2 linked regions of the Homo sapiens genome follow. The protein of the gene in region 1 purifies or fractionates together with the protein of each later gene. This does not show direct contact. Each region holds a gene or a part of one and is shown on either strand. Other genes may lie near its edges.

Evidence for each region.
Region 2: the proteins of MS4A12 (region 1) and TMEM63B purify together in Homo sapiens (affinity purification with mass spectrometry; one large-scale study listed by BioGRID and IntAct). This does not show direct contact.

The regions. Positions count from the first base shown.
Region 1 is NC_000011.10:60,499,212-60,503,029, forward strand, and holds part of MS4A12 (membrane-spanning 4-domains subfamily A member 12), read left to right. Parts: intron 1-1,833; coding exon 1,834-1,971; intron 1,972-2,771; coding exon 2,772-2,828; intron 2,829-3,818. UniProt on the Homo sapiens protein: May be involved in signal transduction as a component of a multimeric receptor complex.
Region 2 is NC_000006.12:44,130,459-44,134,276, reverse strand, and holds part of TMEM63B (mechanosensitive cation channel TMEM63B), read right to left. Parts: intron 2,061-3,818; exon of another isoform or gene 1,991-2,060; coding exon of another isoform or gene 1,988-1,990; intron 1-1,987. UniProt on the Homo sapiens protein: Mechanosensitive cation channel with low conductance and high activation threshold. Osmosensitive cation channel preferentially activated by hypotonic stress.

The sequences.
Region 1 (3,818 bases):
TTGGCACACCTGTACCAGTCAACTCAGACCTTAAAGTGCTTCTGTGGCCAAAAATGCAGACAAATTGTATGTCCAAATTTTTAAGTCTGTCCTATAGGCAATTTTGATCAGTAGATGGTACAGCCAGGGCTGTAGGAGGAGAAATGAGGGCCAGTACAAATCCAGATCTAACTGCCCCTCATCAAGGTGACAGCAAGGATGAGAATGGGAAGTTTGTGACCAGACGGCTGAATTGCTGCTCTAAAGAACAGTTGTAAAAACCAAATATAAAGTCTAATACAGGAGTTCTTTAAGTGAGATAGGCTAAACGTGGCCCATCATCTCTCTGAAGCTATAAGCAAAAGTATGGTATGTGTGTGTATGAATGTGCAAGAATAATTTTTCAGGGAGAAAGGTTCATGGTTTTTATTGATGTCTCAAGAAACTTTTAGCATTGTTTATGAAACTGGGTTTTTTTCTAATTTTAATTCGATTTACTTGTGTTCAGTAGCTATTTATTGAAGAAATAAATACAGCAGTCTTTGTATTTGCAGTCTCCCTGGATAGATAAGATGTAACCATGGGGAAAAATAAATTACAAATCTACAATCAAGTTTTGGACCAATCTAGAAATGATTATTCCTCAGAAATCTATCTTTATTTACAATGAAGGAAGGTTCAATAAGAGGTACAAGGAGGTAAAAGATGTATACCTTACTTTTAGTAATATATGATTGATAAGAAGAATGATTGGTAAGAAAATGATTGCATACCTGCAACTTTTTAAAAAAGGACAATATACACTTTGGGAGGCCAAGGCGGGCAGATCAAGAGGTCAGAAGATCCAGACCTTCCTGGCTAACCCGTGAAACCCCGTCTCTACTAAAAATACAAAAAGAAATTAGCCAGGCATGGTGGCGGGAGCCTGTAGTCCTAGCTACTCGGGAGGGTGAGGCAGGAGAATGGTGTGAACCCGGGAGGCGGAGCTTGCAGTGAGCCGAGATCATGCCACTGCACTCCAGCCTGGGCAATAGAGCAAGACTCTGTCTCAAAAAAAAACCAAAAAAAAACAAAAAAAAAAACAATATAAATGAATCCAAAATCAAGTAATAAGGTGTGTTTTATGTCATGAGATGCAACTGAAATTCAGAAAGAAAGAAAAAAGATTAATTTGGTGTAATCAAGAAGACTTCATGGAAAAGGTAGAGCAGAGCTGAGCATGGGGGAAGACAGTACCGAATAATTCAGACAGGCTCAGCAGTCAATGTGCTGCAGTAAATTCCCAGATCTGCCTCTTAGGAATTGTGTGACCTTGGATACCTGATATCTTTATGTCTCTGGGACTCAATCCAGTTGTAGGAGGATTACATGAAACAATAAATGTAAAGTGTTCAGAACATGACCAAGCACATAATTCATGCCTAATAAATGGTTTTATCTTCACCAATTCCTTTACCCGTAACTGGGATGACCCAAGCAGAGAACTGATCCATCTGAAAAAGCAGCTACTGACATCACAGTTAAAGTATTGTTTTTCTAATAGTCTTTTAGAGGCCCTCAGAGATGCTAATGCATGATTAAGCAGCTGTACTTTCTGAAGAATTCTTCTTGGGCCACCCCAGTAAATTCTCCAAATACCTCAAAACAGGGCGTTTCACTAAGGGCCTTGCACTCCAGTTATTCTAGTATATGTCAGAATCTTCATGACCCACCTCCTGCTTCAGATGTGTGCCTGAATGACAACGATGGATCTCAGCAAAATTGACAATAAATAAGCAGGGGCAGCAATGACAGTAATGTTTCACACGTCTGAAAGTGAAGAAGTAATTTTAAATGGCTGTTTTCTTTTTTCAGGTGATCCAGATCATGGTTGGATTGATGCACATTGGTTTTGGAATTGTTTTGTGTTTAATATCCTTCTCTTTTAGAGAAGTATTAGGTTTTGCCTCTACTGCTGTTATTGGTGGATACCCATTCTGGGGTGGCCTTTCTGTGAGTAGATTGCTAGAACACCAGTCCTTCTTGGTTTATAAAGTATTCCCTCTTGGTTTATAAAGTATTGCTATCTCCAGCCAATTCACAACTCATTTCTTGATAAAGCCCTACATCTGAGGGCTGGAGAATTTAGAAAAATTAACAGCTCTGAATGAGGGCTGGAGAATTTAGAAAAATTAACAGCTCTGAATGAGCATGAAAAAATCGGGAACTCTTTCGCCATTTTACCTAGGAGCTTATTCCATTCTTTAAAATTTAATCATGTAATCAGCAAGCCAAAGTTTTGATATCCTACTACATTTGAGATGGAAATGTATGTATTGGGTGGAGAGAGAAAGAAAAGAAAAGGTGATTGGAAACATGATTAAAAATATGCAAGTAAGCCAGGCATAGTGGTGTGTGATTGTAGTCCCAGCTACTTGGGAGGCTGAGGCCAGGGAATTGCTTGAGTTCAAGAGATGGAGGCCAGCCTGGGCAATATAGTGAGACTCAATCTCTAAAAAAATTTTTTAATTAAAAAAATGCAATTGATTATGAGAAGGGATGGAGCAGTAAGCCTCAGAACAAGGAATGCTTAAACATTGTGAGTTCTTCATAGGCCAGAAATTAAGGAAAAGAAAATAAAAAAGAAGTCAAGGACATATGACTGAGAGTTACTCCAGAAAATTCAGAAGTGCGAGAGAAAATTTTGAGAAGGAAACTAGATGAACATAAATAGACCAACCTTTCATATAAAGAGAAATTCCCAAGCACAACCAGTTAACCCATTTCACAAATAAATTTGTCCATTTCCACAGTTTATTATCTCTGGCTCTCTCTCTGTGTCAGCATCCAAGGAGCTTTCCCGTTGTCTGGTAAGTTAGACTGTCTCTACTTTTTGAACCCCTTTAAAGATTAGCTTAACATATTGGGGAGGAAAATTGAAAAGCTGGATTTGGGAAATGCAAAAGGGAGCACCTTTCCCAAAAAAAATCTATTGGTTGCCTTATGGTCTGAGCGCTGGGGTGAGAAAATGGTCCACACAGTTTGCCACTAAGAAATGGCAGAGCTCCATATCCTGACTCTTGAATTCACAAAGGTGAGAAGTAGTAAAAATCAGGGTTGTTTAAGCTTTAACCTAAAAGCTCCCTGGTTCAGTCTGGTCACACTCTATTATGGGAAGTCCAAAGGAGAATCCAGGAGCCAGGAAATACATACTAGACACATCAGTTACCAAGTCTCTACTGTTCATTTGCCACTTCTCAGCTCTGTCTTGTATTTTTATTTTTTTATTTGTGCTATTTCCTACTCTTACACAGGTTGTGTGTTTTACAATTCTTTAAATTGCCATTAAATGAGTCTAGCTTGTTCTGTAAGAAGAGTTTATAAAAATGATGAGTAAGACAGGACTTTGAGCTCTGTCGGTCACAGCACCCCACCTATTCCAATTTCGTGGTCTACTATTGAACCAGGAAAAAGAAAGTGATTTATCAAGAACTAGAGTCAACTAGAGCAGAGGTGGTGTCAAGATTATATGTAATCCAGTACAAGAAAGAAGAACGGGGAAAGAGGAACACAGAATCATGTAGCTCATGCTCTTGCAGACAAAAGAAGAATAAAATAATTAAATCAAATTAAAATAAAATAAGCCTAATTCTGATTAACCACTCCTGTTGCAGTCCAAAAACAAAATAAAGCACCCTTTCTCTGCATCTTTTAAGGATCCTTCCGTCTAATTGAGATTGTCGAAGCATAGATTCCACCTCTTAGAGGAGACAGCCACTGACACATACCTAAGACAATTTTTCTAAGAGCTTTTAGAGAACTTCAGGAGGCTCTAAGGCACGCTGCAGCACAAGCACATT
Region 2 (3,818 bases), on another chromosome or scaffold:
TTTCTAACATCTATCTAAATCCCCCCTGCCGCCGCCACCCCCACACTCTCATTCTCTCTGTCTTAGGGCAGGGGGCGGAGCTGAGCCTGGGAAGACAGGGAGGGGTCTTAGGCCTGAGGACTCAAGGGTAAGATGAGGGGTCTCCACGTCAGGGGAGAATGGGTCAGGAGCCAGCTGCCTCATCCTGATCTTTTCTTTCTATGCCTATTAGAAAAAATGGCATGATTTCATTTGGTTAGAGTTTTGAACTCAATATAACTGGCTTAGGTTCGACGATGGGTCAGAGTAGGAAGTCAAGTAAATAGTAGGACTTCTGGGTTTGAGTTACCTGCCTGGCCCCAGCCACTCCTGCTTATTCTCATTTCTCTTCCCCATACCATAGTCCTCTCTCCAGTTATTTGCACAGGGATCGCCTGAGTGTTATGAGCACTACAACTCCCAGAGTGCCATGCTCCTGCCTCTGAAGCAGGGAAGGCTGGGAAAGCTATGCCCTACGGCAAGCTTTTCCACTGGCAAAGGAGGGGGGAGTGGGTGGGGGCCTCTTAGCCTGCCTGGGCAGCCAGGGTGCTGCCTGGTTGCCTGCAACTGGCCGGCTGCATTGATGCTCAGAGTGGATGGGGTGGGCAGGAGGAGAAAAGGGACAGCCAGCCTGAGTGCCTGGGTTCTCAAAGTGCTTGGGGACAGAGCAGAGTGGGGCCCTGGGGAGGATCCCAGGATAGCGGAGAAGTGTGGCCTCAACAGATGCAGCACTGCCCCACCCATTTTACTGGGGGGTCCCTGGGGGACCCTTCTGCTGACAACACTGAAGCTCTGCCTCGGGGGCGGGCTGTGGAGCAGGGGAGGAGGTCCTCAGGGAAGAAAAAGGAAAACCAAAGAGAACAACAAAACTAGAAACAGTGACTGCAACTTCGGGAGCAGCATCCCTTAGCCCCCAGGGGGACTCAGAGGGTTTCTCCTGCCTCTTCCTAACACTTCAACCACAGGGCAAGAGGCAGAAGCCCTCAGATGGAGGGGAGGATGGAGTTGTTTATGTGTTTCACTTGGTCCCAGGGAGTCTCTGCAAAGCCTGGATTAGGAAGACTAAAGGAGTGTGTGCTGGTGTGTTATGCCTCTTCCTTTTCCAGTCCAAGCTGCCTTTAAAAACACACTAATTTAGTAATTGTATTGGGTACCATTTGTCCAGTGCCCTCAGTTTCAAGAATAATATATTACATGATTTCATTTAATCCTCGACGATCCTGAATTGAGTGTCACTGACATTTTAGGGTGGGGGCACAGGGCCTCAGAGGTTAAGTAACTTTCCCAAGGTCACACTGCTAATAAAATGAGGGACCTAGGACTCAAACCTAGCTCACCTTCTTTCTAAAGCTAGAATGATTTTCAGGGCACCACGGTGCTTTTCTGATGTTCCTAGAACAGGACTCGGCAGACCATGGAAGCTTTATAAATGCTCATTAAATGTTCTCAGGCCAGAGAACCTGTGGGTGCTGTGGAAATGTGTGTGTCCAGGTATGTAAATGTGTGTTGATGTGTGGACCTGTGTCCAGGAGGAGCTAGGTGACTGCATGGCAGTCCACGGAAATGAAGGGAGTTGTTGGCTTCGAAGTGGGGGTGTGAACATGGGTGTGTCTGGGAGCCCGGGTATGTAAACATAAGATGCACAGAACCCTGGGGCACTATGGGAGGTTAAAGGTAGGTATAGGTATCTTGGGTTGGGGGGACTCTAACTAGTCCCCCTTTCTCAATTCTCAACTCCAATGTACTCCAGCAATCTCAACACTCTATTCCCACCCCTTGCCTGTTTCTCTCTCTGAATTCCAAGGCTCCATCAGATCAGAATGAAATGAGAACAAGCCCCAGAGTACCATTCCTATCAACTCCTGTCTTCTCCACACCAAAGAAAGGTAGAGCATTTTGGAAGCTTCTACATGAAGTGGCCCCAGCAGGGTGGACAGGATCTAGCTAGATGGTTAGTAACTGAAATCACCATGCTCCTCTGCTGTCCGCCTCCTTGGGGTCACAAAGTACTCTCCCCTCCACAACAGCATTAATCTTCCCACCTGCATGGGAGGAAGGCAGGGCACACTCAGATCACTATCCCCATTTTACAGGGAGGAAGCAGGAACCCAGTAGGGGAAGCAACTTGCACAGTGACAGGACAGGTAAGGGGTGGAGCCTGGGCTGGCAGCTCTGCCAGTTGACAGGGCTGCTCCAAGCTTTTAATTGTGGGGGTGGGGTTGCTGGGTTGAGTTTCATCAAGGGCAGCTGCTCTCAAAGCCAGCACTGGGCTGAGCAACTGAGAAGAGGGAAGACATTGAGGCAGAATACCTTGGGGATGGGAGGTGGCAGTTCTTCCACTCCACGAGGTGCCTGCACCAGCTATATCCCAGTTTCTCTAGTCTGATATTGAGGTTTTGGTTGAGGTGTGTCCAGAGAGTGATGGAGCATTTTACTTCTAGCTAACTTTTTAATTTTACCATTAAGGAGTGTGTGCATGGTGGGGGTTGGAGAGCTATAACTTATAAGCTTTTTTTTGGGGGGGTTGTTGTGTATTTTTTTGAGACGGAGTCTCGCTCTGTCACCAGAGTGGAGTGCAGTGGCGCGATCTTGGCTCACTGCAACCTCTGCCTCCTGGGTTCAAGGGATTCTCCTGCCTCAGCCTCCTGAGTAGCTGGGACTACAGACACATGCCACCACGCCCAGCTAATTTTTGTATTTTCAGTAGAGACAGGGTTTCACCATGTTGGCCAGGATGGTCTCGATCTCTTGACCTCATGATCTGCCCACCTCGGCCTCCCAAAGTGCTGGGATTACAGGAGTGATATAAGCTTTTTCAGTGGAGTTACTGGGCAAGATTTAAGTTAGGGCTTTGGATCAAAGCAAGGCCATGTGGTCTGAGGGGAGGAGGGGAAGATGGAAGCGAGCTCTGTTACTACGAAACCTGAGTCTCAGTCTTCCAATCTGTAACAAAGAGATACAAATATCCTTACTCTACCCCTACCCACTTCAGAGAGAAAGGCAAGAATATATCCACAAGTGAGCATAAAAGTAGTAGTAGGTGCCAGGCACGGTGGCTCACACCTGTAATCCCAGCATTTTGGGAGGCCGAGCTGGGCAGATCACAGGGTCAGGAGTTCGAGACCAGCCTGGCCAACACAGTGAAACCCCGTCTCTACTAAAAAAATACAAAAATTAGCTGGGTGTGGTGGCATGCGTCTGTAGTCCCAGCTACTCGGGAGGCTGAGGCAGGAGAATCACTTGAACCCAGGAGGCAGAGGTTGCAGTGACCTTAGATCATGCCACTGCACTCCAGCCTGGGCGACAGAGTGAGACTCCATCTCAAAAAAAAAAGTAGTAGTAGGCAGGGTGGGGTGGCTCACCCCTGTAATCTCAGCACTTTTGAAGGCCAAGTGGGGAAGATACCTTGAGCCTAGGAGTTGGAGGCTGCAGTCAGCCATGATCATGCCACTGCACTCCAGCCTGGGCAAGAGAGCAAAACCTTGTCTCGAGGGGAAAAAAAAAAAAAAGCCAGGCATGGTGGCTCACACCTGTAATCCCAGCACTTTGGGAGGCTGTGGTGGGAGAATCACGTCAGCCCAGGAGTTCGAGACCAGCTTGGGCAACATAGCAAAACCCCGTCTCTACAAAAGATACCCCCCACCACCAAAATTTAGCTGGGCATGCTGGTGCATGTCTGTAGTCCCAGCTACTCCGGAAGCTGAGGTGCGAAGATCACCTGAGCCCAGGGAGTTCCAGGCTGCAGTGAACCAAGATCATGCCACTGCACTCCATCCTGGGCGACAGACAGAGACCGTGTC